Regions from separate parts of the Homo sapiens genome. Here all the other regions are linked to region 3. Evidence: fine-mapped expression QTL. A gene starts in region 3. Each other region holds a variant in brackets. All regions are shown on one strand. Distances are between the middles of the regions.

What was found. PIP is the estimated chance that this variant, and not a neighbour inherited with it, causes the effect.
Region 1: its variant is fine-mapped to the expression of CALD1 in nasal epithelium (TOPMed, PIP above 0.99).
Region 2: its variant is fine-mapped to the expression of CALD1 in subcutaneous fat (TwinsUK, PIP 0.95).

The regions. Positions count from the first base shown.
Region 1 is chr7:134,855,739-134,866,136 of GRCh38, reverse strand. The region is part of intron 2 of CALD1 (caldesmon 1); the gene reads right to left. Among named protein-coding and RNA genes, the nearest start is that of CALD1, 81 kb to the right of the region's middle. The variant C/T (reference allele first, on the strand shown) is at 6,041.
Region 2 is chr7:134,886,249-134,896,646 of GRCh38, reverse strand. The region is part of intron 3 of CALD1 (caldesmon 1); the gene reads right to left. Among named protein-coding and RNA genes, the nearest start is that of AGBL3, 95 kb to the left of the region's middle. The variant T/C (reference allele first, on the strand shown) is at 4,558.
Region 3 is chr7:134,773,148-134,783,545 of GRCh38, reverse strand. It overlaps CALD1 (caldesmon 1), which reads right to left and starts at 3,912. Exons shown (of 15, transcript NM_033138.4): 1 at 3,797-3,912. All of the region lies in intron 1 of LOC124901750 (a long non-coding RNA gene), which reads left to right.

The DNA.
Region 1 (10,398 bases), 83 kb before region 3:
TGTTCTGACCACAGGGCAGGAGTGTGTGAGGACAGCCCTGTGGGCAGTAGGGTCTAAACTCCTGGACTCGAATGCCAGGTGCAGTGGGAGGGTAGACTCTTCTCTTCCTTCCATGTGGTCTTTTGTTGCATATAAAGTGCCTCTTGAATAACTATAGCAATAGCAAACAGACATGGGAAAAAGAGGTCCGTCTATAAGCAAACAATTTTACCTTTTAAAATTTATCCAAGTAGCTTGAAGAGCATCCTCTAAGCCTCTGTCTGGTTTTTGCTCCTACCTCATCAAATTTAAGTAGTCATTCTGGCTGTTTGTCAGCAACAGTGGTTCTCAGCCTATACCTCTGGTAGAGGTGCTAATGAGCAGTGAAATGAATATCTCCAAGCAGGCTGGAGATGCACATGGTCTGCAGAGCCGGGCAGTGTCTTGGAATACTTAAAAGGGAAGTGAAACTAACATCGTGAGGTCAGTTTGGCTGACCATCCTCACTGGCTCTTAACCCACGCAAATTCTTTTTCTCCTACCCATTCTCTTCTCCCACTCCTCACCTTCTCTTGCTTACTTGAGCACTTTTTCTTTCCCAGCCATAGAAAAACTACCTGCCATTTGAATGCTGCTGAGTATACATGTGGGGGCACCCAGAGGGAGAGAGAGAGCGTGTGCCATTTCCTACAGACCAGTGCTTTTCTAGGTGAGGCTTTGTGCACACGAGTGGGTGTAGCTTAGAGGAAAGCACAAAACCACATCTGTGTACCATGTGGTATGACTCTCGGTGGTGTGTGTGTCTTGTGTGGGGGAGAGAAGCTGTATGTGTTTATGAAAATGGCTCTCGGTATCAACCCAGGATGGGGCTGGAGATCCTCCTTCATCCCTGCACCCTTATATCACAGAGCTTTTCAGCCCTTCTCTAGCATCTTTCCTTTGTAAGAGGAGACATGTCTAGGTAGAATGGTAAGTGATTTTCTTTTTCTCTTCTACGTCCCCAGTCCCCAGGCAGTAATCCCTCATTTCCTGCCCTACCCCTACTCAGTGCTGAATTCTTTTCAGCAACATTGGTTAGGAAACAAACTCTCAACCAATGAAGGGATGAAAAGTCAAGACAGGGTGATTCCATCAGTCGTGAGGCTCTGGGTGTCACAAATAGAGTAGTGTGAAAGAGCTAAGTATTGATGTTAGTGACAGATGATGCGTTCTCGGAGAGTTTTATGAAAATCTAAATTTTTGTGCTGGAGGAGGGACTGTGGTCATGCTATTGAAAAATTTACTGAGGTGACTTCTTTTGTAAAGAGGGGAAAAACAAAAACCTTAACAGAGGCAGATGTCATTACCTATGGATATGTCTGTGTTTTCAATATGGATTCTCATAGATAGGATTTTCTTTTAAAACAGGGCATGCCTAAACTGCCATGATTAAGAAATAAGTCAGTGTTAAAGGTTTCAGGCCAGATGCAGTGGCTCATGCCTGTAATCCCAGCACTTTGGGAGGCCAAGGTGGGTGGATCACTTGAGGTCAGGAGTTCGAGACCAGCCTGGCCAACACGGTGAAACCCCATCTTTACTAAACACACAAAAAATTAGCTGGGTGTGATGGCAGGTGCCTATAATCCTAGCTACTCAGGAGGCTGAGGCAGGAGAATCACTTGAACTCGTGAGGTGGAGGTTGCAGTGAGCTGAGATTGAGCCGCTTCACTCCAGTCTGAGCGACAGAGCGAGACTCCATCTCAAAAAAAAAAAAGGAAAGAAAAAAGATTTCAAATCACCAAACACACTGCCCTTCCTTTTTTTTTTTTTTGAGATGGAGTTTCACTCTTGTCACCCAGGCTGGAGTGCAATGGCGCGATCTCGGCTCACTGCAGCCTTTGCCTCCCAGGTTCGAGAAATTCTCCTGCTTCAGCCTCCTGAGTACCTGGGATTACAGGTGTATACCGCCACACCCGGCTAATTTTTATTTTTAGTAGAGACGGGGTTTCACCGTGTTGGCCAGGCTGGTCTCTAACTCCTGACCTCAGGTGATCCTCCCCTCGGCCTCCCAAAGTGCTGGGATTACAGGCATGAGCCACCGCACCCAGCCTGCCCTTCTTTTTGAACAAAGCCACGAGCCTGCGGCCCAGGGGATTGGCATGATGTGACGAGAGGCGTGTCCTGCATCTTACCACCACGCCAGGGCTTCCGGGACTTTCCTCTCTTTCCTTTCCTTCCTCCTTGCTTTTTTTTCTCTGCCTCTTTTCAAAGGCAGAATATTGAGTGGTATTTCTTCTGACATTAAAAAAAATTTTCTCTTTCTTTGTGACTTTTTTTTCTTCTCTGTCTCCCACCCTGTGTCGGAAATGAAAGTATATTTATATTTATTAAAATCAATTTATGGCTCGTTTCCTTTAAAAATTTAGTTCAATAGCTGATGTGCATCTTTCAACCAAGAAATGTATTATGTTTTATATTCTTTTTTGCTGTTTTTCTTTTTCCCTCTATGGGCATGTAGCCCTCACTATAGATATTTCCTGTGATGCCTTTATAAGGGGAACTAGTAAGTTTCTGCTTTTGTTTGGGTCAGTGTTGGTGGCAGATAAGCCATTTTAGGTGTGTGTGGGTATGCTCACCTGTGTCACCTGTGCATGAGCACGTGTGTAAATGCAGTCAAGGCAGGAGATGTTTGTGAGCAGGTGGCTAACCCAGCACTCAACACTTAGGGACAAGGCCATGTGGAAGAAGCTAAGTCTTATCTACTTTTTGGGCAGTGCCAGTATTGATCTTGGAATGCAAGAAGAATAAAATCTGTTGTGTCAGGGGCACTGAATAAGTTAATGCAGCATCCAAAAGGAACTAACATTTATTGAATATGTACTATGTGGCAGGCTGTTTTTTAAGCCTTTAACATTTTTAATGAATAGACTTATTTCTTAGAGCAGAAAAAAAGCGAATAGAGAGTACAGAGTTTCCATATATTCCCCCCTCCCCAACTCCTGCCCACATTTTCTCCTGCATTTGGAGATAGAGTCTTTGCAGATGTAGTCAAGATGAGGTGATTAGGGTGGTCCCTTATCCAATATGATGGTGTCCTTATGAAAAGGGGAAATTTGGCACAGAGACAGACAAACACAGAGGGGAGATAATGTGAAGACATGGTGAGATGCCATGAGAAAATGGAGACAAGGAAGACCTAAGGCCACCAGAAAGCTGAGAAAGAGAAATGGGACAAACCCTTCCCCAGTGCCTTCAGAGGGAGCCTGGCCATGCTGACACCTCCATTTCAAACTTCAACTCTCCGTAACAGTGGGACAAGAAATTACTGTTATTATAGACCAACTAGTGTGTGGTACTTTGTTATGGCAGCCCTAGGAAACTTAGGAACATCTTGCAGTAGTGTGGTACATTTGTTCCAATTGACAAACCAGTATTCATGCATTATGATTAACTAAAGTTCATAGTTTACATTAAGGTTCACTCTTTGTTGCACAGTTTCATAGGTTTCACCAAATACCGAATGTCATGTATTCACCATAGTAGCATCATACAGAATAGCTTCACTGCCCTAAAAACCCCACCTGCTCCACTCATTTATCCCTTCCCTCTCCTTACTCCAAAACCCTGGCAATCACTGATGTTTTTATGTCTCTACAGCTTTGAGTTTTCCAGAATATCATATAGTTGGAATCATACAGTATGTCTGTAGCCTTTTCTGATTGGCTTATTCCACTTAACAACACACATTTAAGTTTCCTTCAAGTCTTTTCATGGCTGATAGCTCTGCTGGGCCATTAAAATATAAGTAATTTTACTTTATCTGGGTAACAGATCTGTGAGGTAGCTAGTATAATCCCCATTTTATGGAATTTCAAAGTGCATACACTTAACCACTATAATAGGACTAATCCACTATTTCTCTCTAGGATTTGTTTCCCATTTCAGGGAACAAACAAGAGTGCCCCAAAGAAGTTCTGAGAGGACTATTATCAGTGATTGCCACATTGATTCATTGGATCATATAACCTTAGGTAAGAAATAATCCTAAAAATTACCTATGCCTTCGGTTTACAACCTGTTTGGTTTAAATCATAGAATTATCAAGTCACAAAAGATCTCAATTGAATTAGCCTTCCAAATGCTTATTTCATCTCTGTTAATTTATTGTTAGTGCTTTGTAAAATTCGTAACTCAGGATGGCTGTATCCTCGACAGCATCATTGCATACTTTTCTTCAATATCTTAGTTTCTTCTCTTATATTGTACCTTCTTCATTACACATCTTCCTCCTCTAACCCACTGTATCCTCATTCACAACATCATCATTTCTCTGCTCTCGCAAGGAACTCTAGTCTTGGAACACTCAAAACCATTATTAGACAGGTCCTCTCTGACTAGCCATCATTTTGCACCCACTGTAAATTTCATGATTCAGCTACTTCAGTGAGGCCTCACAAAAACATTTATACAATCAATATACAATAAATATTTACCGCACAGCTACTATGTGCCAGGTACTGTTCTCGACACTGGGGTATAACAGTGAACAAGACAGAAAAGGTCTTTGCCTTCCTGGAATTGATAGTTTAGACTTTCTTGCTTCTTTAAAGTTCCACCAGGCTTGTCACACCCATCTTCAACCTTGAATCACACCTATCACCTGCTTTCTGTTTTGTGTTCTTGAGATTCAGTGCTTTGTGGGAGAAAGGGAGCATGTCGTGTATATCCTAAAGATTTGCATTCATTTCAGTTGGGCCATCGCTGCAACTCAGTGATGTTTCTCTTCATCCTACAGGTATTGGGTGATTTCTGGGTACAACATACTCCAGCAGATTTCCTACCTCTGATCTGCAATGATCATCGCTTACCTTGACCCTTTAACTGTTTTCCTTCACAAACCCTTGGCAAATAGTGACCTGGAATGAGACCTAGGAGACTGAGACTGAAGCTCTATGAGCTTTGTTTCTCTATAAAGTGAGCTGGTTGGAGAGATAATATTCAAAGTTTCATCTTACGCCACATAATAATACTATGGCTGTATACCTGCTTGAGCCAGCAAAGCTGGAGGTATCACACATGACATATCCATGCTTCTTCCTCCTTCCCAGACATAAATGTGTTGAGTATCTAAGTCTGTTCTCATTTAATTTTTTGATCTAGAAACCATTAACCTTCCTTTCAAGCTGATCATACCACAGCATCCTACATAAAAATATTTTATCACCTCTCAAATATGTCTTACAACTTTCTACCTCTACATTTTTACTCATTCTTTTTAATCTACATCTTCACTATCCATATTTTTATTCAATCATGAATTTCATGCTCAAATTTTACTTCCCTCATGATACCCTTTCCTGAGAACCCTAGCTTAAAAGCGACAATTCCCTCCTTGAATATCTATAATTCATGTTGATAATCAATAACACACTGTCAGCTACAGCTCATCAATTGTTCTCTTTAGCTAGTCTTTAAATATTTGTATTAGTATTTTACTTTCCATATGCTTTTGTTCTTAAGGCCACTTATGAAAAGATATAGTCTTTAAAAAAATTTTTCCACAATTGAGACAGAGTAGGCACTCAGAAATTGTAGCCAATTTGAGCCACTGGATTTCTATTCTAGATTTTACCATTCTGAGTATGGAAAATGTAACTCAAGCCAATTCATCTCTCTGTACTTTATTGACTGATCAGTGTTTACAAAGTGAATCAAAGACCTTGGTAATTGACTATGTATGAATCTCAAAAATTATATAAACCCACATTTGCAGTAGTTACACAGTAAATCTGGCAGCACTTTCTTTCCGACTGTACCAAATGAACTTTTGTTCTTTTCAAAAAAAATCAATTTGTCAACCCACTTTGCTCTTTTCTGAGCTCAATGGTTCATTTGGGATTGAAAAACCAAATAAACAAATGGATTATAATGTACAGTTTGCACTTAACTTTAGCTCAACCTTCACCATCTTGTTCCAAAAATCTGTGCTACTTTAAAAAAATACATGCATTTACCAAGGCAGGTCTGTCAAGAACAGCAGCATAGAAATAAGAGTGAATACAATCAACCTGAGGCACTTTGT[C/T]TTCTCAAGGTGTTTCTTTTCTCTAATCAATGGAATCCAACATACTAAGGGCAGGTTAACAGGTTATGACCTGTTTTTCCCTTGCCTTCCCCGCACAATCTCTTAGCATTACCATTTCTCTATTTGTACTTCTCCACTAGCAAACAGAAGACCTGGCAGATTTAACATTATTAAAGCCAATGTCTTTATGCCCTTTCTTTCACCTTCTGAGTAGCAGACAGTTTGAGTAGTTTAGATTTGTGAAATGATGGTTTTTGTATATACTAACTTCAACACTTAGGAAGACACCATGTTTAGGGACTTTAGGTTGCATCTTCAAGTGTTATCACAAATATCACCACCTTAATTTGGAGCACTTTATATTTTTCAAAACTTTATGGTTATCATTATTTGATCCTCCCAAGTAAGAAGAATCAATTCAACCCCATTTGAAGAAAGGAGACTGAGACATATAAAGCTTTGACATTAGCTCCTTAACCACTACAAATCAGTGGAAAACCAGGATTGGCATTTAGACTAATTTCTAAACCAACTTGAAAGTTTCTTAGAAGAATGAAGAGAAGTGAAAATTTGGGACACGACTTCTTCTGTTTTCTTTTCAAGCATTTAAATACTTTTCCTTGATGAACTCAAGGAGAATTAGGCTGAAAGACAGAGTTTAATGCTAAATCAGAATAGGCATGCTGCTCTATTGGCCACTAGAGAAGAACAAATGACACAAGCGTAAACCCTAAGGCAAGGTGGAAATTCTCCACTACCTTGTGTCCATGTGAGAAAAAATGCGTAGACTTGCAACAAATATGTAAAGATGCTTTCTAAATGTATGCCTGACTAACAGAGGCATTCACAATATTATCACACATAATTCAGATACAGGGAGGGCTGGCTCCAGCGCAACTACCCAAAAATGGGGGTGCATGGAAAGGGTAGACCCCTATCCCTGAAAAAGCCAGGGAGAAGAAGTGGCCATCTATTTAGGGTTATGGCGAAAATATATTTTTTAAGATTCTAAGGCTATGCTGTCCAATATGGTAGCCACCAGCCACGAGGTCATTTAAATTGAAAATAAATAAAATTTAAAATTCAGTTCCTCAGCTTCACCAGTCCCATTTCAAGAGCTCAGTAGCCATTATGTGTTTAGTGGCCCCCATATAAGACGGTGCAGAGAATGTTTTCATCACTGCAGAAAGTTCTACTGGACAGCTCTACTATAAGATCTTCCAACTCCTGGCTGGGCGTGGTGGCTCACACCTGTGATCCCAGCACTTTGGGAGGCCGAGGCAGGTGGATCACAAGGTCAGGGGATTGAGACCATCCTGGCCAACATGGTGAAACCCTGTCTCTACTAAAATTACAAAAATTAGCTGGGTGTGGTGGCGCACACCTGTAGTCCCAGCTACTCAAGGGGCTGAGGCAGGAGAATCGCTTGAACCTGGGAGGTGGAGGTTGCAGTGAGCCGAGATCATGCCACCGCACTCCAGCCTGGTGACATAACAAGACTGTCTCAAAAAAAAAAGAGATCTTTCAACTCCTAATATGAAATGATTGTACTGAGTGAAGTAATGCTATGCACTTCAGAGACATGAAGGTATGTTAGATATGGTTTCTGTCTTCAAAGACCTTACAATCTCATAGAAAAGATGTGGTAAGTTGTGGGGTGTTGTATGGGTCAGCATCTCAAAGCATGGCTGTGCTCTCATAATTCCCTCATTGGTACTCTCTCCATTTTCCTATGGAGGCTTTTTGGATGGGGGCAATCTAGCTGTGACTGGGCACTTGCAACTGAGAAAGTGAAATGCTTGGCAAATACAAAAGAAGCTGAGACACTGGCTGAAGAAAGATCACACTTCAAGTTAAGTAACAAGGCCCAAGAGTGGTTCACATGGAATGAAAGTTCAGAAGCCATGGGCCTTTCCCAGTTGTAAACATGCTGCAGAGATCACCATATTTTACATAAAAGTAGTTTAACTTGTGCATGGCCTTCTGGACTTGCTGAACTACTCAGCTAAAAAAAAAAAAAAGTCAGCAACTCATGTGCCTGCTTTTTGTGACTGGTTTGTTCAACTAACACTTCCAGTTTAGTGATACAGAGCCTTGGCCAGCTATCTTGCTAATATAAAGTAGGATAGCTTAGATGGCAGGATGCAAATCCATTTATAGTGCTGAAAACAATTCAAAGGTGTGTTCTAGAGGTGCTTTGTTAATAGCAGTATTTTTGTATGTGAAGGACAAGCTGTTACTGATCAGGGACTAATTATTCTCTAGTGAATTATTTGACTTCTATTCATCATGATCATCAAGTGTGTTTACTGTATTCTGGAACTGCAAAGCAGGTTAAAAACTACCTTCTAGAAGTTTATAATCCAAGGTGGAAAGGTTTGAAACCCAACTAAAGGATGTTATCTGCTATGTCCCTTGGATGTAACAGACATATAATTTAAGCATATATATTTACAGATAAATAATAAGTTGAAAAGTACTTAGATTGCTTCCTCTTTCTTTATATTTAGATAGTAATTTAGATAGTAATGAGTCATTTAGATAGCAGTTTCACTCATTTATTAGTTTGGGGATACCTGGACTTTTCCTCAGGTAGGGAATGGCTCACAGTTGGGGCCTGCTTAAGAATAGCACAAAACTGGCCGGGCGCGGTGGCTCACGCTTGTAATCCCAGCACTTTGGGAGGCCGAGGCGGGCGGATCACGAGGCCGGGAGATCAAGACCACGGTGAAACCCCGTCTCTACTAAAAATACAAAAAATTAGCCGGGCGTGGTGGCGGGCATCTGTAGTCCCAGCTACTCGGAGAGGCTGAGGCAGGAGAATGGCGTGAACCCGGGAGGCGGAGCTTGCAGTGAGCCGAGATCGCGCCACTGCACTCCAGCCTGGGTGACAGAGCGAGACTCTGTCTCCAAAAAAAAAAAAAAAAAAAAAAAAAAAGAATAGCGCAAAACCATAGGATCTTTGAACAACTGACTCAATAGCCTGAGTTTGTACTGATACCCATGTTGTATTTCTATTGGAGCACTTAGTCTATAGCTTGTATTTTAATTACCAAGTACATATTTGTCTTCTGTAAAAGGTTGTTATCTCTTAGAAATGATTACTGTCTTTCGTGATCCCTCAAAGTTCTTAACTGACTGTTTTTCTTATACTCCGCATTAGGCTCACACTTGTTGAGTTGGAACAGATGCCAGGGCAGTGTTTATTTGTTGAACTTAGTTGTTAAACAAATGAACTTGGCTAAGACGTTATCAAAAGGCTGTTTCTCTGGCTGAGCTCTTAGTAACCTTGGGAATGGTGGTGGTTTACTATGGAACTCTATTTTATATTCTGATTTGTAGTTGTGGTTGTTTTTCTCTAGTGGAAAAGAACTTGGTCTTAGAGAGACATTTCGATTTCAGGAAGAGGAGTATTAGGCATTTAACTGAGGGAATAGGTTTGTTCTTGGATGTTGAAAGAAAAAGAAGACAGGATGAATAAGAAAAGAAGAGAATCAGAATTCAGCTGATACACTTCAAATTTCCGCAGCCTTTGGAAACTTCTTGCTACCCCTCTATCATAATTAGAAAACACTGACATTCAGAGCCAATTAAATGTTTCCATCAGTCTAAAAAAACTGTTGCCTGATTTTGCTCTCTAACCATGCTCAGTAATTAGAAACATAAGGCACCGTTCTGGAGGTTTGCTTGGGAACCTACCCTTCCCAGGCCTCGCGTGGCTACCCATTGGCTACAGGACTTTTATCTTTTCTCACCATCTCTCTTAGGAGCCCCAGCCCAGATCACAGGAAAAGTGTGAGGTTGCCATGGGCATTCCTGGAAAAACTAGAAACTTCCGGTGCCACTTTAGACTTTAAAAAATGCAGAAGCTCACTCTGCCTGCCTGTTTCCTCGCTAAAGCACTATAGCTCTGTACTATACGTGGAAGGCAACAGTTCGAGGATTCAAACCAAAAGAGGCAAAAGGAGGATCTTTGTGACAACCAGCTTGAAATGGCATCCTTGTTCGCTTCGTAGAACAAGAAAGCTGTTCCAGCAGCTGATGTTAGAGTTCCTCACACTCTTGCTGAAAAACCTATACTTTGCAGAGTGTAGGATTAGAATACCATCTAAGAAGCAGCAGCAACAGCTTTCTACTTCTGACAATATCTACAAAGAAAATGGAAAAATACTTGTAATCAAGGACTTCAACTCGACAGTTACCTAGCTTGTCAAATTAAAACATGTGGCAACCACCGGGCTAAATATCTTGAAAGAATGATACTTTCTTGTTTTTCTCCCTGACCTAAAATCTCTTTGGAGTACATTTGCAATTCCTAATTTTTCACACTTAAACAAAAGCTGTCCACACTATGTTTA
Region 2 (10,398 bases), 110 kb before region 3:
AGGTTTGAAAGGCTTGTGGCCACCAGGTATTGAACCAGTGTGAGTGTGGGTGGGCTGGCCATTTGTAGAGAAGACACATATACAGAAGGTCAAGACCACCTCCATAATCACCACTGCTCGTGCAGTGCTGCAATATCTTGTATAGAAGAGTACCCAATACATGCAAAGCACAGTGACCTATTTCTCTGCCATTCTTTTTTATTTTTAATCTATAAACAGCAGTAGCAATTTTATCCATAACCAGATAAAGGGTCCAGATCATTTGAAACCTTTCTTTGAACCAAAAAGTAGACAAATTGGTCAGTGTTAGAAATGCAAAATGCTTGTTTCCCAGTGCCACAAAGAAATAGCACTGGAACATAAATGCAATTTTCTCAGAAAGGCAAAATTTACTTTCTGCAGAAAGGGTGCCCCTCGAAGATGGAACAATGGCGAGAGCACACCTGGACAGGGGAGGGGCAGGAGTTCTTATTCCTGATGCAGGCGGCCCCTACTGCTGTGTTGTTCCCTATTGGCTAGGGTTGGACCACACAGTCTAAGCCAGTTCCGACTGGCTATTTTAAAGAGGGCAGGGATATGAGCCAGAGTGGCAGGGTGAGTAGTTTGGCGGGAAGGATGGTTAGAAACAGGTAACCAAAGGTGACTTAGGTCAGAGCAGGTGACCAGGGGTGATTCAGGTCAAAGCACGTGACCAGGATGAGACAGGACAGAGCAGGTGACCAGGGGAACAGATGTGAACCTACTGAATAGGACTGGTGGGAAAGTTGTTTACTGAAACTAGAAGCAAGTGGGCAGAGAGAACCAGGAAGTTAAACTTTGAAATCAAGAATTAAAAAATAAGAAAGCTGAACATACTGACATACTGATTCTTTGAAGAGAAACTGGAAGTTCACTATATTTAACACTTTGGCCTACAAACCAATAGTCACAAAATGTAAGTGCCCATTACTTTGTAGGAGAGAAGGCCTCTCTCACCAGATTGTTGATTTTTACTTTGAACGTAATTCTAACAAATGGGTGTCCTGTTACTCTTGGCTACAGCAGAACAGGGAGCGGGACCATGACAGGCAGATGCATTAATAGGTATTAGAAGAGATTTAAAAGCATCAATATTATGTGATGGAAGACATCACATAATAACTGGACCCATTTTTGGATGGGAGTCTTATCCCCTGAGGTATCACTGTTTTACAGCATGATTAAAAAACTATGTTCATAAGGACAGCTCCTAGCAATTTGAAAATGTTTTAAATGTGTTGTAATATCTGCTTTAATGAAGGCAAAGAGTTTCCACTAAATACATACACACACACACACACACACACACACACACACACACACACACACATACATATATAAAACCAAATTTAGCATCCTGGATAATTATAATGCTACATTTCCTGATAACATTGAATAAGCCAGGCATTCCTAAACTTTTGACAAATCTCAATATTCTTATGTTTATTTCCTTTGTCATTTCTGCAGAATCTTTAAAAATTGTGCCAATTATTTATTTATTTATTTATTTATTTATTTATTTATTTATTTATTTCCCAGCACTGTTTTGGATTCAGTTCCCTCAGAAAACAGTGGGATGAACTAAATAATTTCCTACGTTTCCTTGACTCCATGATTTTACAATTTACATACCCTTCCATGTTTGTTACAAAATGTAACACACACAAAAAACTTTTAACTTTCAGCTGCAAGATATATAAAAGCACACTTCTCTATAAGAAAAATAACCCTTTATGGACTAAAACAAATATTTACAGGAAACCCCAAATCTTGTTGCAAGTAAACTTCCTTAGGCTTTGGGAAAATGATAAAAGTACCAGTGAAAATATTAAACCGCAAGTGACAGAATCTCTCAGTGATCTTGGTAGGAACAAATTAAACATGCCTTGAAATCTAAATAACTGAACAACCATTCACGACTGCTCCTGAAAATAACATGGCCCTTGTGTAGGTCTTGGCATTCAGGAATTTTAACATGTCTCATTAAAAAATCACAGCCAATCTTGCTCTACAGGTGATGAAACAGAGATAAATTATCTGATGGAAATGCAAAGGAACTTAGAATTCATTTTGTTGAGCACCTGTTTTAGCATTTAACCTAGTACGTCTAGCAAAGCAAAAGGAGTGAAGGCTTTGTGTGTTCAAACGGTTCAAATGAAAAAGGTAAACTAAGGGGAATTGAGTTTGATTTACTCAATAATAGGAAACTTAAAGAATATTTCTGGAGCATCAGCACTGTTCTGGATGCTGAAGCTTCAAAGATTCAAAATCATTCCTGCCCTCAAGTGAATTGCCATTTATTGGGAGGGAAGATAGCTATGTTCAACAATAACTTTATTGAAAGGAAATTAAATTTTGGTACCCCGAACGCATTTAGACAAACGGAAAAGTCAAGCCGGGAACTGGGTCACTCAAAGCCTTCCCCTTTTAGTTCCTAAATAAGATGGCTACAAGGTGAAAAGCTACACAAGCCTCCCCCATATTTTGTCCACAAGGACATTCCTAGAGAGCTGTTAAAACTTCACCATGGCAATGCAAATGGACAGCTTATCTTTATAGGTGCAGTCACCCTGGCCCACCAGACACAAATGCATATCTGAGTGTCGCCCTACCCCATTTTGTCTGTTATCATACGTAAAATGCAGATTCCCCGCATTTTTCCTCTGCCCCCTTTGTTTATGTGATCTTATGTACAAAACACAGATTCACTTAGATGAAAATTGTGTACTTCTCAATATCCCCACCCTTTCCCCTTTAAATCTGGAGCCCTCAAAATCATCTTCAGATAAAGGCATAGACCTATCTCCCAGGCACATCCTTAACTTTGGCAAGTAAACCTCCTAAAATGATTGAGACTTGCCTCGTCATTTTCCTCGATTGACGGTACAAAGCTAGTAATAGAAGGATGGGCAAAGGTTATTAGAGTGAGAGAAGTGAGGAATGAGGAAGGTTTACAGAGGAAGGGAGCATTTGATCAGGGCCTTGCAGAACAGAAAGGAGGTCAGAAACAGGAGGGTGAGGGTATTCCCTGTGTAGGGAATAGAATGAGTCAAGAAACAGTGGTGGCTTGTATATGCTGAGTTTGGGGAGCTGTGAGTGATCTTATTTCACCGGATCAGGTACTCCTATAGTTTTTACAAATCTCGACATCCCTGTGTGCATTTCTTTTGTCATTTCTGCAGAATCTGGTAAAATTATGCCCATCATTTATTTATTTCCCCACAATGTTTTTAACATTCTCCCTGGCGGAAGTCAGAATGGGAAGAAATAGTGAAGGCATGTTGTGGAGAAATTTGAATGCTGTAGTAAGGAGAATGGACTTTATCTTCATAGGTGGGGGCTGTAGGGGGCTGGATCAGAAAGGGGAGAGAGACAGAGGCCGAGGACCAGATGGCAGGCAATGACAACCATCCCGGTGAGAGGTAATAGCTGTTGAAATCCAGGAAATGGCAGAGTAAACAGAGAAGAGAGACACAGAGAAAGGAGACTGATAGAATCATAGGCATGAAGGAGTGGAAACAAGCCTCAGGACCATGAGTTGAGAGAGAGACAGCCAGCCAGACTGGGCTCTTTTCCTAGCATCCCACGCTCTATTGCTGATCAGCTGTGTGACCCTGGGCAAGCCCTTCCTGTGCCTCAGTTTCCTCATCTGAAATGAAGGCTTTCAATGAGATCAGTGGTTTCTGAACTATTCCATGGAGACCTAGGATTCCAAGGAAGTTTTGATGAAGAGGGTGGGGAGGTGGGGTAGAAGAGGGATGAGGAGAGGGGTAGAATTGTGCAGTGGGCTATGACTGCAGAGTAGAGCGAGGATGAGGAGCTCTAGATCCCAAACCTTTTCTTTAACCAGAACATCTCCTTTATACAATAGCGTTCCCCTTAAGATTAAATTTGATTTTTTAAAAAGTTTGATAAGCACTGGACTATACAGATAACGTCTAAAGTCCCTTTGAGCTCTCCCACGTGAATAACCAACCACACTTACGGAAACTAGCTCTCCAAGAGATCTGCTAATGTAATGGACATGGGTCTTGTTTTTAGGACCCTGATGAGTTTCTCTGTTTATTTGATTAACTGTTGCACAAACGCTGGAACAACTGGAACAACAATTGTCATGCTGAATCGGTGCCAAAACTCTCAAAAATGGAAAAGATTTACTGAAAGGCCATTTGGTGTTCTAATTCTTGTGCGGTACCTTTTCCCAAGACCCAGTAAGTTTTTCAAACCTCATAAACACCAGTGTGAAAACGGCCCTTTGCATGAGAGTACAAAGACATGGCTTTGCTACCGACTGTTGTCTGCTTTGGGGTAAGTTGAGTTGCCCCTCTGGTTTCTGTTTCCCTGCCTATTGAAAGACAGCATTGCACCAAAGAGTCTAAAGGCCTCCCTTCTGGCTTTAACATTCCAGGATTTCATGATCCTAAACCCTTGGAGTCCGTTATCTGAACAATTCCCTGATCAATAGCATATGCTCTGGGTCTTGTTCTGTCTTAGTCAGATGGTCAGTATATTGAGGGCTTTGGCTGTTTACTCTAAGGA[T/C]TGGGCAATGTGTGCTTTAGCCAAAATCTCTGAGCCCTGCAAATGGATCATTCTGAACGGAGGGCTAAGGTCTAAATTAACAGCAGACCTTTAGAAACACAATGCTTTATGGATTGGTATTTGAAACGGAGAAACCCGTGCCTAGGTATAAACTCCTGGCAAATGGTCCACAAACCACCATTAAAATGGAAACGAGAAAAGCCAGCGAATCAGAGCAACCATGAAGTGGAAACCAGAAAGTTTCAGACAGGTCTGAAACTCACACACTCACTGCATTCCTTTCCTGCCTGGTGTCTCCTCCTCTCCCCTCCCACTCCCACATTTTTTTTTTTTTTTTTTTTTTTACAACAATTCGTTTGTTTTTTATAAAAAAAAAAAAGAAAGGAAAAAACCAAAGAGACGAAATGAGGACTCACTGGGAGAGCGCGGCCAGGCTGCGTCTTCCATGCGATCCGGATCCACCCAGCATGTCCGCAGTTGGGAAGGGGCGGCGGGGCAGAGAGATACGGAGACCTGGCCAGGCCGGGCGGTCAGGGCGTGGGCTGGGCCCGCGGAGGGGCCATGTGATCTGTGGCTGAAATGCACGGTGCAGGATGCTCCCGTGTTCTCCCTTTGTGTTAACACGTTGGTCTGTCCCTGTGACGAAAGTCTGGGCTTGTCCTCAGCCAAATCTACTCCTCCCAACCCGTTCCCTCCTCACAGGATCATCAGAGAGCTGATTGTTATTTTTTACTGTAATCTCTCTAATAGAAGCCCATCATGTTTAGCGATCAGAGAGCACTGATTGCTTCGGGAGTTCCAGAAATGTTATTGCTGGGTAGTCAGGGCCAGGATCTCCAGTAGTTTTCCTGATGAAGACTTTATATGCTTAACTACAAATAATTTTTCCAAGGTAAGTAACTGGTCAAAGGAAAAAGACACTGATGCATTTGCTCAGCCTTTTGGAAAATAGTTGATCATGGTATTACATGCATATACAACCTAATTCTGACAAGATCAACAGAAATCAGCCCACCAAAAAGTTCATCCGGGTGCAGTTCTCAGGCTCCCATTCTGAGCTCTGTTCTCAATTAGCATTGGTGTAGGTGGCTTCCAAAGCAAACAGTTCCCACTGAGAAATCAAATCTGAGAAACTCCTCTTATCCCTTTTATCCAGGGAAGGAGCATGACATAAAAATGCAAACCAAATGAAAAGGGATGAAGAGAGATGGCCCTGCTCAGTGATGGGCTGGATGGTTCAGCATGTTTGGTGCTCACACCTCTCCAAGAAATGTGGGCAAGAGCCCTCCTGAGAACATGTTGAAACAGCAGGCCCCGTCTGCACCCATGGTACTCTGCCAGTGATCTCATCAGCCAAGCTGGGCAATGGAACCTGGTCAGCAGCGGCTTGGAAAGCAGCCAAATCCCAGTTCCTGAGGAGGGGGTGGTGTTGATTCTGTCTGGAGATGACACTCCGTCTCAGCTTGACTTATGAATATGGTTCTTCATCTCTAATGAGCACTAAACAGACTGGTATTTGGGTACCAAGCTGCTCGTGGGACTGGCTTTCTGTCAAGTGAGAACAAATCCGATCTCCACAATGTAGAGTTAAGATTATTCTCTTGGTAAACAGCAGGAGAAGCAGTCAACTTCACACATTGAGAGCGCTTTCACGGAATGAAAGAGATCTTTGAGATCTGCGGCTTCATGTCACACGCAGACAAGGACACCAAAGCACAGAGCATTTAGACAACTCACCCAATGTCATGGAGCTGAACTGCATCTACTACTCTTGTGTTCAACTTAAAGTTTAATTGGGTTAGGTTAAGTGGTCTCCACTTTAGCTAGAACATTTTGGTTGTTTTCTTGCTTAAATACTATGCGGTCATCAGAGTCGTAGTTTATAGGCCAGGCGAGGTGGCTCATGCCTGTAATCCCAGCACTCGGGGAGGCTGAGGCAGGTGGATCAAGGTCAGGAGTTTGAGACCAGCCTGGCCAACATGGTGAAACCCCGTCTCTACTAAAAATACAAAAATTACCCGGGCTTGGTGGCAGGTGCCTGTAGTCCCAGCTACTTGGGAGGCTGCGGCAGGAGAATTGCTTGAACCCAGGAGGCGGAGGTTGCAGTGAGCTGAGATGGCGCCACTGCACTCCAACCTGAGCGACAGAGTGAGACTCCATCTCAAAAAACAAAAAACAAAACAAAACAAAAAATGAAGTCATAGTTTATAGAGTAAATACAGTTTAATAAACTTAAAGTTAATTATCTCTATATATCATTATGTATATATGCATTTAAATATCTCTGATTACACATATGATCACCGAACATATATTGATGAAAGTAGCACATAAGACACCCATAAAAGTAGAGATACATCTGCCTTCACACAAGAGGACTTAAATATACACTGACTTGTCCTGAGTTTCTCGCTCTAGAACTGAGACAGAAACATGTATCGAGGCATTCTGCTGCTTCTCTTTCTACCGAATTTTGCCCAATTAATTTTTTCCCTTCAATTACTTACAAAAGTCGGTGGTTTTCTATGGTAGGTGGAATAACGTTTCCCGCAAATCTCCAGAACCTGAGAACATGTTAATTTGCGTGGCAAAAGGGACCTTGTCGATATGATGAAATTAAAGGCATAGAGATGGGGAGAGCATCCTGGATTATCCAGGTGTGCTGGAATGAATCACATGGCTCTTTAAAATCAGAGACCCCTTTCCAGCTGTGGTTAGAGGAGCTTATCTGTCAGGGTGGGCAGACAGACTGGTGATGGCTTTGAAGATGGAGAGGGGGTCCAAGAGCCTGGGAATGTGACTTCCTCTAGAAGCTGGAAAAGGCAAGGAAATGGATTCTCCCCTGGAGCCTCCAGGAAGGAATACAGCCCTGCTGACACCTTGATGTTAGCCCAGTGAGACCTGTGCCAGACATCTAACCTATAGAACTGTACAGAATAAGTTGTGTCGTTTAAAGCCACCAAGTTTCTAGTTATTTGTCGCAGCCATGCGAGAAAGCTATCACCTCCTGATTCCCTCCTCCCCAGCCCCCCACGCCAATTCTGAGGTGACAGGTATGGTTTTGGCATATTCAGAATAGGTTCATAAAATGGAAAAACCTAGAAAAAAAAATTGTGGTTCTTTCTGGCCAGTATTCTCCATGGAGGAGAGCAAGAATTTAGTAGTCTTCCACTCATGTGCAGAATCCATGTACAGAAAGTGTGCTAATTGCCAGCTGTACACAGGATGTCCACCAGGCTATTTCCCTAATTGCCAAAAGAGGGAAAGGGAAACAGCGCGCACCCTCCTTTGTTATTAGGGGCATGCATTTGGGAAGCAGCTGTCTGTCTTCAGTTTGTGATAGTAAAACCCAGTGGTGTTATAGCTCATGCTACCTGGTAGGGTACTGACATGGGAAGAGTGAAGAGAGAAGTGAGTCTTGGACCTGGTTCAGACACTCTCTGGGAAGAGGAAGAACACAAAGGCCAATGAAAGACAGGCAACGCGGGAAGACGCATAGAGATAACAAGTGAATCATGAGCTGAGAGCAGGGCTGGGCTAGGCAAGTGCTTCCAAGAGTCCTCTGAGACCTGGTGCCTGGGGCTGGAGAGGCAAGGTAAGAGGATTGAGAAATAACAATCTAAAGGTTATTTGTGCACAGTGTTCTGGTCCTGCAGAGACCTACAGGCCTGTGTGCTTTCACTGCATAGCAGAGAATGGTACCCAGTGTCCAGCTGCCAGAACTGGTGTCTCTGAGAAGTGAACTAATGACTATTCATTGGCACCATGAACAAGTGGGCCAGTCATCCTTCAGCAAGATAATAGGTATCATGAATTTGATGATGCTTCAGGACTCTTACTAGGAAAAATGAAAGTCTGGGCCATTCTGAGATTACTCATAGTATCCTTTGTTTCTGGACACTTTATTGTTTAATTTTTCATCAAAGAGATTCTGGGCTGGGAAGGTTTGAGGGAGGTCAGACTGTAATAGAAAGGAACAGCTCCCACCACAGGGTGGTCCTTTATTAAGAAAATATGATTTTTTAAAAATAACTTTACTTCATGGAGGTGGGAGACCGGACCACAAGATCTGTTCCAGACTTTAGAGTCTGCAGCAGTTGTTTAAGAACAGCTTCTACCTTGAAACAATTCCCTAGGGAAGAGAGGTATGTGGGAAGTGCTGTGCATATGCCCTAATGCGCTTATGACACACATGCACACACATACACACACATACAGACACACATGCACACACAGGCACACACACATACACGAATGCATGCATATGCACACATGCACACACATACACATGCGCACACATACACATGCACACACATACACACGCAGGCACATAGAGACACACATGCACACACAGGCAAACACATATACGCATGCATGCATATGCACACATGCACATACACATACACACACATGCATGCATACGCACACATGCACACACATACAGACATGCATGTACACACAGGCACACACATATACACGCATGCATGCATACGCACACATGCACACACATAACATGCACAGAGCCATTCACTTACTATGGAAACACATAAACCTAAGGGAAATCTACCACTAGGGAGGCAACAGTTCGAGTAGTACAAAGGGGACGTTTGAAAAGGCTGTTGGAGATAAATTTTCTTATGAAGAAATTCATAGGCTCTGTACTCTTAGAACTAGGCAAAAAATCTTGCCTAGACAGCTGTTCCCCCACCCCAAGGTGAACAGGAATGTAGGTAAAGGAGTTTACATATTCAAAGGCAGCATCTCTTTCCTCCTTTCTGTTGGCCTCTCATAGTTTTCCCCTCATAGACGACGGCATCTCCCATCCCCTGCCCCTGCCATGGCGTTGAACGTGTTCACTTAAACTATATTGCTCTGTCATGTCCTGTGATCTTGAATGCAGGAGCTGCTGTGGAAAAATCACAGTTTACTCCTCATCCTAGTCTTCCAGTGGTTCTTCACCAGCGTCTTCATGGCCTGTGCTGATACACGTTTCTTAATTATTCTTTGCCTCATCTGTCTCTAGGCCTGTAATAGGGGCTTGGGTTGTGACACTGTCTTATTGCCCTTATAATGGTGAGCATGTAGTTTTATTTTGTCCCAGCACATTCCTTTTTGCTTTGCTTCGCGTAGCACTATTGGAATGTTTACTACAAGCAAGTCATTGCACTAAGTGCTGTGGGGGATGCAAAGATAAGAAGGGCAGTCCTAAAGGGAGATAAGACATGTATACAAAAATTCTATTATAAGACAGAAAGTGAACAGTACTCTGAAAGCAGTAGAGCTAAAGAACTATACTTCAGTAGGTGACATCCTGTGATCAAGGTCCCAGTGTTTAATCACTCTCACGCTCAATTTATCCTGTTATCGAACTAGATTTCCTGTTGCTGAAATAGAAACCTACTTATCTCTAGGAGGGCCACAGGTATTAAGTCATCCTTTAGTCTCGTCTTTTCTAGGCTAGACGCCAATGCCTATTTTCCATCCTTTTAATATCAGCCTGACTATAACAACTCTTCAAACGGGAAACCAAAATTGGACATAATAAAAGCTGACCAAGGCCTGGCTGAAGTCCCAGTGCTTCCTGCCACGTTCCTGTTAACACATCCTAACATCATTTTCACATTGATAATAGCATCTCTTAGAGAGATCATTCATTCAGTTTTGTGCTATATCCAGGGTTTTTGCTTTTTCTTTTTTCTTCTCCAAATGAATTGCTTTGTAAGTCCTATGCCCACTCTTACTCCTTTTGCTTCTCTGAATTCTAGTGGTTCTTTAAGAACCAGTTCCAGGCCTTACCTCTATGAAGTCTTCCTGGATTTGACTTTATTTCTTTCTAATTTA
Region 3 (10,398 bases):
CCTTACCCACAGCCTGCCAATTATGAGTTTGGGGTGAGAAGCAGAGTGGGTCCTTACCACAAAACATGCTCTGACATCTCCTCTGTCTGTGCAAGTGGCTTTCCCTAGCTAGAACCTATCTGTGCTAGAGTGTTCTGCTGTACTCTGGGCCTCATCTTAGAGCTGGCCCCTGCAAATTGTCAATGTTGGATCAAGAAAGCTCCCTATCCGGTACAGGGATGGGGGAGCTGGGGAAGAGGTTACAGGTGGAGGCCTGGGGGTAAGGAAGTTAGGGATGCAACTAGGGTCGGTTACAGCTGGGAGCACTAAAGACAGAAGCAAAGAGGTGAGAGGCGAGCTCCGTGGAGCAGTCTGGTTTCAATACCAACAGGAACCACAGCCAGGTGTTCCTGCCTTCCTTGCCCTTCCTACAAGGCCCAGGCATGACGTTCCGGGGTTCATTCCATGCTTTTGGCTGGAGGCAGAGAAGCTGCCTCAATTACTTAAGGGCTTTCTGTTGTCAGCACTTTCTCACTGGTCTTATGCTCAAGTGGATCTTTGGATTTCCTGGTGCCTTGTACCACTGATGGCCCATCTTATTCCACTTCCTTATATTTGTGTCCTCTTAGTCTGTGATCATCAAAGTAAAAATTCAGACAACATTGGGATAGACCAGTATTCACTGGACACGGCTCAGGGCTCTAGAAATAACCAGGAGCGAGAAGATATCACTCAAGGGTCCTTAAATACGAGAAAGGAAGAGATCATTAGGGATACTAGGTAAGAAGTGGAGGATACCAGCCAAGATGAGCATAATGTCCAGAGGACTCAAATGATAGGCAGTTCAGGGTATAGAATCTGCAGGGAAGAGGGAGCAAACAGCTTCATCTCATTTGGACGTCTTAACCACTGTGGGACATCGGAGAAGCATTACCAATGTCCGTTCTTCACTCAACAGATGAAGTCAAAAGCTGATGATTTCCTCAAAAAGGTCAGGGTTACTTAAGCAGAGGAACCAATACTAGAACTGAGATGTTGTAGTGGTTCTCATAAGTTAAGCCTGTGCCAAAAGTTTCTCTTTAAACTACCCATCTACTCAGGACTTATGGGCATCTCTCCAATAGCAAACTTGGATTAGCCTGACAGATGAAGGACTTTCAGTAAGGAGCTAATGGTATCTTCTCAGGCCCTAAGAGAACTTAACGCAGAAAACGCCCTTTTGAAGTCTGAAAATTCTTTGGCAGCATCTTTCTAACCTCCTCCTTAGTCCTACCATGCTATTTGCATACCACTCTATCAGCATTTTTCCTGTCCCCCGACCACATTTCTGAGACATGTGATAGACTACAGGCAAATGGGGAACTAGCAAATCTCTTTTCATGCCCATCTCTGAATCACTTTTGCGTCTTGCTAAGGAATGACTAACTGGTAATCATGCTATCAAGAAAATGGCAAATGGAGACAATTACATGTGTTTCTACAAAAATGCCTGCTGAGGTGCATTTTATTTATCAGAACAGAGAATACCTGGGCTAGATTCTGGACCTTTACATGGCTGGCCATAAGATCAACTTATTCTATCTACCTAAGACAAGGAGATTCTCAGGCCAGTCACAGGAGCCAATTAGAATTGTTAATGATTCTCATAATAAGGCAGTTGCCTTACTGTCAGGAAATGCTTTCATGTATCTCATTTAAAATCCTTTAAACTGCAGTTTGAGCCTGGTTCTCCTTCTCCTAACTTTAATATAAGAATTGTGTATTTACTTAAGGCAATCTTTTGACTGGAATGATTTAAATTACACCTTCTATTTGCTTCGAATACTTGAAACAACCCTGCACTTTACTTATGGATCAATCCATTGTACATACATTCCTTGTGTGTCCTAGGATCAACTCTTAGTGACTTTTTGTTCTGGAATTTTGTGATTATATTTCTGAAATGAAAGTTACTGTTTTCATTGTGCTCCTTTGGCCTCACTATGTGGGGAAATGTGTTCTAGGTAACATTCAACAGGAAGGAAGTAGCACAAAGAACTGCCTAAAATTCAGCATAAACTCAAATCCTCTCACTCTATCTCTACCTATAACAGCAGAACACCTAAAGTGTTACTTGGAAAAAAATGAGTGTTTTTATGGTTGTTGGGGGTGGGGAGCCCAAGAGAAGGGGGATGGGGGATCTGGAGAGAGTGGTCATAGCACAGTTTGAACTTTCAGGGATTCGGAGATGTTGGTTTCAAAATGGAATTTATCCTCAAATCCCAAGATTATAGATCTCCTTCCAAACTGCATTCCCTTCATGGTTTAGAGAACAGTTAAAAGAAAAATTGCTCTCCATATTTTGATTGACATTAAAAACACTGTGAAAATAGTTTGGAACTTGATCTCTTCGAGGGAAGGACAGTAATTAAACTATAGCTTTTGCCTGCAGCTTTTCTCTCACACTTACTCAGAACTGTTCCAGGGAAGGAAATTCACAAGGAATTCTGTTCTCATATATCACTTCTAGAAGGAGAAATAGGCATTCCCAAGAAAATTATCCCCAAACTTCTAAATACAAAGAGAAAACTTTATTTAATGAATCTCAACCCCAAACTACCGCATTGCATGGAATAAAATCCAGTTGAATCAGTCATTTGCAGCTGGTAGTCTTTAATAGCCAGCACTACTAAAAAATCATCAGATTTACCCTGCTTGCCATATAGCATCTAGTCTTCACTCAGGTTCTAGCTGTATATGTCTGGTTTTGACAAACACATTAGAAGGATTTTCAGTTTACAAGTCCATCTGCATAGTCCTGTTAATAGAAGGCATCTATAAATATCAAGCACTTTGTTCTCATCCACTTTTTTTGACCATGTATTGCCACAGCACTAAAATTCCCCCACCCCTTGCCATCAGCTCTTTCTAAAAGGAATTCCAGGCTACTACCAACTAGCTGCCTTGTACTACTGTTTCAGACACCCAAATATGTCTATCTAGATATAAAAGCCTGCCTCCTTCCTTTCTGAAACACATTGCCAATCGACATCTCTTTAGATTCTCTAGACACACTCAGGCACACTTTCAAACAGAAAAAAAGATTTCTTAAAAAATAGTTTGGTAGGACGTTAAATGTGCTTTCTAAAAAAACACACCCACTAGCGCATGCATTCTCTTGTTATTAGGTTTTATAGGAAACAGACCAGCCTAGGCATCTTCTGTCTTAGCAAATATCCCATCAGTGACATTAACCCAACCAGTGCTAGGTGCTAGTGATCTCTCCATCTCTGACCGTATTTCCTTGCAACTCTGGAAGTCTAGTTTTAAATACTGGCAGCAGACTATAACGCAAAAGCCTTTGGTTAAAAAAATCATTCCCTTTTGGCTTCTCATCAACCTAAAGGATTGTTGATTTTGTTTTTAAAGCAAAACCTCTTCAAATCTTTGGCAATAAAAGATGCAGAAGAGACTGTGTGAGCAGTCTGGTGCAGTAGGCTTGCTAACACTGGCCTTTGGATATCAGGTATAATCTCATATGGCTGTCCTAAACAAAAGGCTATCCTAATCAAAGTTGCCAGTGTTCCCTAAATGTAAGTCTCTATATGGTCACTCTTCTTGTCCCAATTCTAAAAACAAAACTGGAAATCTCATCCTGTTTGCCTTCCGGGAATATCCGTATGGCAGTGAAGCCCAGTCAGGCTCGGGAGTTTGCATGGTTTATTGCCTTGAACATTCTTGCATCTCCAGCTACCTTAGCCAGGAATGTTGACTGAAAGCCGGAGAAAGTCCCCAGATTCTCTCTAGAAGATAAAAAAGAAAGCCTTCTGTGCCTTACCTTGTAGTCTGAAACTTCTTCCCGAGGACTAAGTCGGAAAGGAAGGACTGATTTCTTTAAGCAGGAGCACAGCCAGAGAGCAAGCAGGCGGGCAGGCAGGCAGCCGAATACACACTGCTCTATTCAATAAAACTCCAGACCGCCCTTCCTTGGCCCCTCCCAGAAGTCCATGCTAAGTGAACACATATCCCCTATGTTTACAGTCGGGAGGCGGTGGTATGCATTGTCCTGTCGTTTTTCTAATAGGCAGCCAATGACGACACCCCAGCCAAGGTGGATGCAGCCTGCCTGTGGAGATGCCTGTCATTCCCTAGGCATGCTCAGGAAATCACTCATCAGAAAACCCAAGACCTAAAAAGCTCTGAAACTGCGTGCACGCTGCCAAAACCAGCCTGCTCCATGCCCTTTTTTGGTTATCCTTAGCAGGGCCTCTGGAAGTGAATCCATTGTCAGGAACAATCATAAGAAATGTTAATCTTGGAGAAAGAGGCTGTCTTGTAGAACACAAATGCAGCAATAAAAAGAAAGCACAGTCTCTGAAACAAAAAGTTAACAGATCAGTTTATTGGGCGTGGGGGTGGGGAAGGCTTCTTACCAGAGGGAGTCTTAATAGTATATTTCTTTTCAAAGTACTTGCACATACAAAATGAGTTTAAATTGTTATGCAATTCTAAAACCTGAAGGAGACAGGACCCGGGTCTGCTGAGCAGACTAAATTCTAGCCTGAAAGAGGCACACCTCCCCAAAATACGTCTGCATGTGTTATAAAAATAAGTGACCAAAGGGAAACCAAAAGCGTAGGTCTTTTTTAGCAGGTAATACTGGCCAGAATAAACCTAAGGTCCTACAGGCTTGGATATCCTCACTGGCTTCACTTTCCTCTCCTTATCTCTTTTGTTTCCTCAGATTTGGTGATGTGGAGATAGTACTAGAAATTCCTAGAAATTGATGCACATCAGAGAGGGTATGAAGAGACCCACCACCTGCTTTGGGCTGGGGTAGACAGATGCATATATCCCGCAGAGGTGACATAATGTTCAGGTGACGTCTTGAAAGTGCTCCGACCAACTCTTCATGGTTAGGATGTGTGCTATAAGAGGGTCAGAATTAGTAGATGCTAATGAGAATTAAGGTAACTGGCCCACACATAGTCTTGTCCTTTTCAATACAGAATTCACTCAATTAGTACTTAATTAAAATTGAAATCCCCTTTTTTTGGAGCACTTACTATTTGTCAGGCCTGGGGATAGGTGCAAGATCTATGTCTCATTGTTATATGTTTGAGACTGTTTCATCACTGACCAAGAAGTTTCACAATATTTTTCCTGGCTAATTACAAGTCCAGATACTGGTCTTTAAAAATGGGAGGTTTTACTATATGCCTTTCCCTGTTTATGAAGATGTGACTTAGAAATGATCTCTGTTTACGAAAATGTCCCTGCCCTTTGTGCCTCTTTTAGAACAGTTGGGAAGTAGCCAGTTCGCACTGTTGGTTTCCTTCTTCAGCCTTCCAGCATTAACAAGTTACCCAGAGGCATCCATATCAACTCTCTACACTCATCTCTTTTTTGGGAAGGTTGCTTCCCTCCCCTCTTCCTGACTGCTACTGCTGCACAGCCCAAAAAACTATAGCTGAGGCTCCCAGGCAGAGGGAGAGATGAGCCTCAGGCATCCCAAGAGGAATGCACTTTCCCAGAGAAAAGAATAAATAATGGTTGGTGGGAATCATACAGTCAATGTTGCATTTCAGGTACACTGTGGCACAAGCAGGCATTTGTGGAACACCACTGTTTATAAAATTGTTCCTGTGGGAAAATGTCTTCTGATCCCAGATAAATGATTTAGAAATAAATTTTCGGAACACGGCCAGTTTTGCTGATGGGGACATCCCATATCTGACAGGAAGGAAAGATAGAATAATACTACATAGTCTGGTAAACTGCTGGGCTTGAACATATTGTAGGGCAGACATCAGGAGTTCAGAAAACAGCTGCAATTGGTGATGTCTGTGCAAAGATATGACCTGTGTCCAGAGACGTTCCGGGTGCATGATCTCCAGGTGGTATTCTCCATAACTCAGTGAGGCCTGTTTGAAAGTGCTATTTTCCATTACCGCTGCTGCTTATATCCTAAACCACACTCTCCCTGCTTGTATAAATAATGCCCTTTGGTGGAACAGCATCAGGGTATAATTTTGCAATCTATGAATAAAATAAATACCAGCTTTCCAGAGGAAAGAAAAGTTGTGCTACAAATGGGGAAAATATTATCAACAGGAAACACGGCAGGGACCTGCATTTTGCCTGGTTTTTAGAAGATAAATGGCTAAATATTTTTGGGTTATGTCTTTTGATAAAAAAAATAGTATGTTTCCATAGATAAATTCTGGATATCTCATATATAGGGTATAGTAGATGAGTGACCACACAACCTATTTTATGTATTTGAAATACACTTATCATGGAGGAACTATATAGTTGAAGAATAATTTAACAAATTTCATGTAGTGTGTACCATGATATTGAAAAATTCTTCTTTCTTTGTCCTTTTACTTTTTTTAAACAATCAAGAATTTAAAAAAGAAAGGAAGGGGGAAAAAAAAAGATACATGTTGCTGAATCTCTGCCATGGGAAATTTTACTTTCATAGTATTTACTTTTTCCAGAGGCCATTTGTAAACAGCCCTAAAAATACACGAGATTTATATAGGAAATTTCTGTGAAATATATTTCCCAATTGGATCATCCTAGATAAAGGACTCCTTGTCTATCATAGGCTAGATCAACTTAATCGAACCATAATAAATCTAAAAAGACATTTGGAAATATCTGGACGATTCTTTATATTTTTTTAGTTACAACTGAGTGTTTGCGATCATGTAGATCAGTAGCAAGAAATTATATTTTGCTTGCATGTCAACTTGGGAAAAGTAAAAATAGGCCATTTTTTTAATTCAAAATTAGTTACTTCATTTAGTCATGAAAAACATACCTCCTTCCACCTTAAAATGCCTACTTTATTCAATAGAAAAGAAGATTTGAAAGTTTTAAAAGGCAGCAGAACACCCTTTGCCAGATTCTTTTAGTCAGATAAAACCTTTGCCAACACCCAGGTTTATCAAACAATAAAAGCAGGCTGGTAGAATCTTGATATCAAAATTGGACACAAAAGTACCAAACACAATAGAGAATTTGGATTAAGTGCACTTATGAATGCAGATGAAAAAATTAGTAATTGAATCCAACAGTGTGGAAAAAAGAGATAAGACCAATCCAGAGATGGTTTAAGATCTGAAGATCCACTGATATAATGTACAACATTAGCAGTTTAAAAATAAAATAAATAAGAGAAGTAGAAAAAAGAAAAGAGAAAGATCGTCTCAATAGGTGAATGATACTTGGTAAACTTAGTAATCACTTTGGAAAAAAAACTCTTGGAAAACTAGAAATAGAATCTTTTTAAACATAATGAGAGGCATTTACCAGAAATATATAGCAAACGTCATGCTTAATGATAAAATGTTAAGAGCATTCCCATTATAATCAATGAAAAGACAAAGCCACTACTATCTCTTCTACAACTAAAAAAATGTGCTAGATACCTAACCAAGACAAATAAATAGAAAAAATAGCCACTGGGATTAGAAAGAGAAATAAAGGTCTTTATTTGCTATACAATTATCTGTGTAGAGAATTTGAGAGGATCTATAAATATATTGGAACTAATAGAAGAGCTTAGCAAGATTGTTGGAATTAAGTTCAAGATGCAAAAACCTAGAGTTTCTGTAATCAGCCATCTCTAATTTTTAAATGTAGTGGAAAAAGATGCTATTCATAATAACAAAAAGTGTTCATTACCTGGGAATAAATGTAACAAAATATGTGCAAGAAAGTTATAAAACTTGAGTTAAGGGCATGAAAAACCTGACTAAATGGTGAAATATGTCATCTTCATGAATGAAAAACCTGAAAGTTGTAAAGATATATATTCTCCTCAAAGTAATCCATGCATTCATTATTCTTTTCTTTTTTTTTTTTTTGAGACGGAGTCTCGCTCTGTTGCCCAGACTGGAGTGCAGTGGCACGATCTCAGCTCACTGCAAGCTCCGCTTCCCGGGTTCAAGCTATTCTACTGCCTCAGCCTCCCGAGTAGCTGGGACTACAGGTGCTCGCCACCACGCCCGGCTAATTTTTTGTATTTTTAGTAGAGACAGGGTTTCACCATGTTAGCCAGGATGGTCTCGATCTCCTGACCTCTTGATCCACCCGCCTCGGCCTCCCAAAGTGCTGGGATTCCAGGCGAGAGCCACAGTGCCCGGCCGCATTCATTATTCTAATTAAAATCTCCAAATGACGTATTTTGTAGAACTTGACAAAACAATAGTAAATATTTTAAAAGTAAAGACCTAAAAATAGGCAAAGAGGTTTTTTTATAGAACAATTCTAATTAAGATAAGTGCTATTCACACAAGACTAAACAAATAGATCAATAGAATAAAGCAGAAAGCCTAGAAATAGACCCCAGCATATATGAATTATTTTAGAGGAAGTATTACAAATAAAGAAGAAAAGGGTGGATCACTCTATTAATGGCAGGGTTACAATCAATTTTGTGGAAGCAGAAAATTTAGATTCAAAGTTTCTACTACACACTATAATAAACTAGGTTATATAAAAAACAAACAGAAATGATTAGAAAAAAATTGAAGGTGAATTTTTTTTATCATAGGGTATATAACATAAAAAACAGAATTAACAAATGAAAAGACTAATAAATTTGAGGATATGGTTAAACACGGCAGATCACATAAGAACACTCATTTAATTTCTGCTTCCCCAAACCTCTCCAGACTGATAGTAAAGCAATAAAAAAATCATAAATAAATCCTACAAGACAAAGAGCAAAGAGTACCTGAAAGGAATTAGCATAAGTCCAGATGTTAGGCAAATTTTGGACTATGGAAAATGGACAGATGGCTGGAAATGGACTCAACAGAGCTGAGAAACTGAAATCTGGTCCTGTGAATTAGGATGCCAGCAAGAAGGACGCTGATTCAAGCCTCAGAATCGGGAAAACCTCGGAATATGGAAGCCCTGGGAACCTCTGAGGACAGGCGGTGGAGCAGAAAACAGATTTGTTGTAAGTCTGGGTAAGGAATAGTTAGAAGTCCAGATAGCGTCCTCTACCCCACACAACCAGGTGAGCATCTCTCTCTCAACCAGACGGAAAACTGAAGTTTATTCTGATTCTTCTTTGAAGTGCTGGGCTCAGAGGAACCAGGTGAAGCAGTGAACAGGGAAGAGGCTGAGTGCTGAAAATAAATGTTTAAATGAAAGCCAACTCGTTGAACACTGAACATCTCCAATCGCCTCACCCTGCAGGGCTCCCAGGACACCGACAATCAGGTTTGTATCCCACAGACAGGAAATTGAAGGATTCCATTCCAGAGAAACTGGCATGCTCATGGAAAAAAAGACCTAAACTCACAGACATTTGAGAGACATTGTCCAGTGCACTTTAGTAACCCATTTGCAGCAACTTCCAATTGGCTACTTAGTACCTCACTCTTTTTTTTTTTTTGAGATGGAATCTCACTCTGTCACCCAGGCTGGAGTGCAGTGGCACCATGTCAGCTCACTGCAACCTCTGTCTCCTGGGTTCAATCAATTCTCCTGCCTCACCCTCCCAAGTAGCTGGGATTACAGGTGCCCACCACCACACCCGGCTAATTTTTGTATTTTTTAGTAGAGACGGGGTTTCCCCATGTTGGCCAGGCTGGTTTCAGTGTCCTGACCTCGTGATCCGCCTGCCTCGGTATCCCAAAGTGCTGGGATTACAGGCGTGAGCCACCTCACCCGGCCTACCTCACTCTTAAATATGAGCATCACATTAAGGAAAGAGAGATTATAACAAACAACAGAAACACACACACACACACACACACACACACACACACACACACACACAGAAGAGAGGTTGGGTAGGAAATGGAAGAAAACTTGGAGAAAACTACAATTACAGTTCTCAGTGAGATAAGAGAAGATATTGTATCCATGGAACAAGAAAATCAGGCTTTAAAAAGGCACTTTCAGAGAACAGAAAAGAACGCTTGTGTATGAAAAGTATGATGGCAGAAATTTACAAAAATTCAACTCAAGAAATGCAAGATAAGGTTTAGAAAAATCAACTGGGCACGGTGGTTCATGCCTGTAATCCCAGCCCTTTGGGAGGCTGAGAAGAAGGAGCCTAGGAGTTCAAGACCAGCCTGGGCAACAGGGCGAAACCCTGTCTCTATGAAAAATACAAAAATTAGCTGAGCATGGTGGCACACGCCTGTAGTCCCAGCCCTAGGGAGGCTGAGGTGGGAGGATAGCTTAAGCCCAGGAGGTGGAGGCCGCAGTGAGCCATGATTGTGCCACTGCACCCCAGCTTGGGAAACAGAGGTAGATCTTGTCCTGAAAAAAAAAAAAAAAGTTCAGAAAAATCTTACAGAAAAATGAAGAAGAAGGCAAGCTGGAATAGAAAAGATAAAAGATAAAAACACTGCATAATTACACCTGAGTGTACATAAAAAAGAGGACAGAAAAAAAATAGTAAGAAGA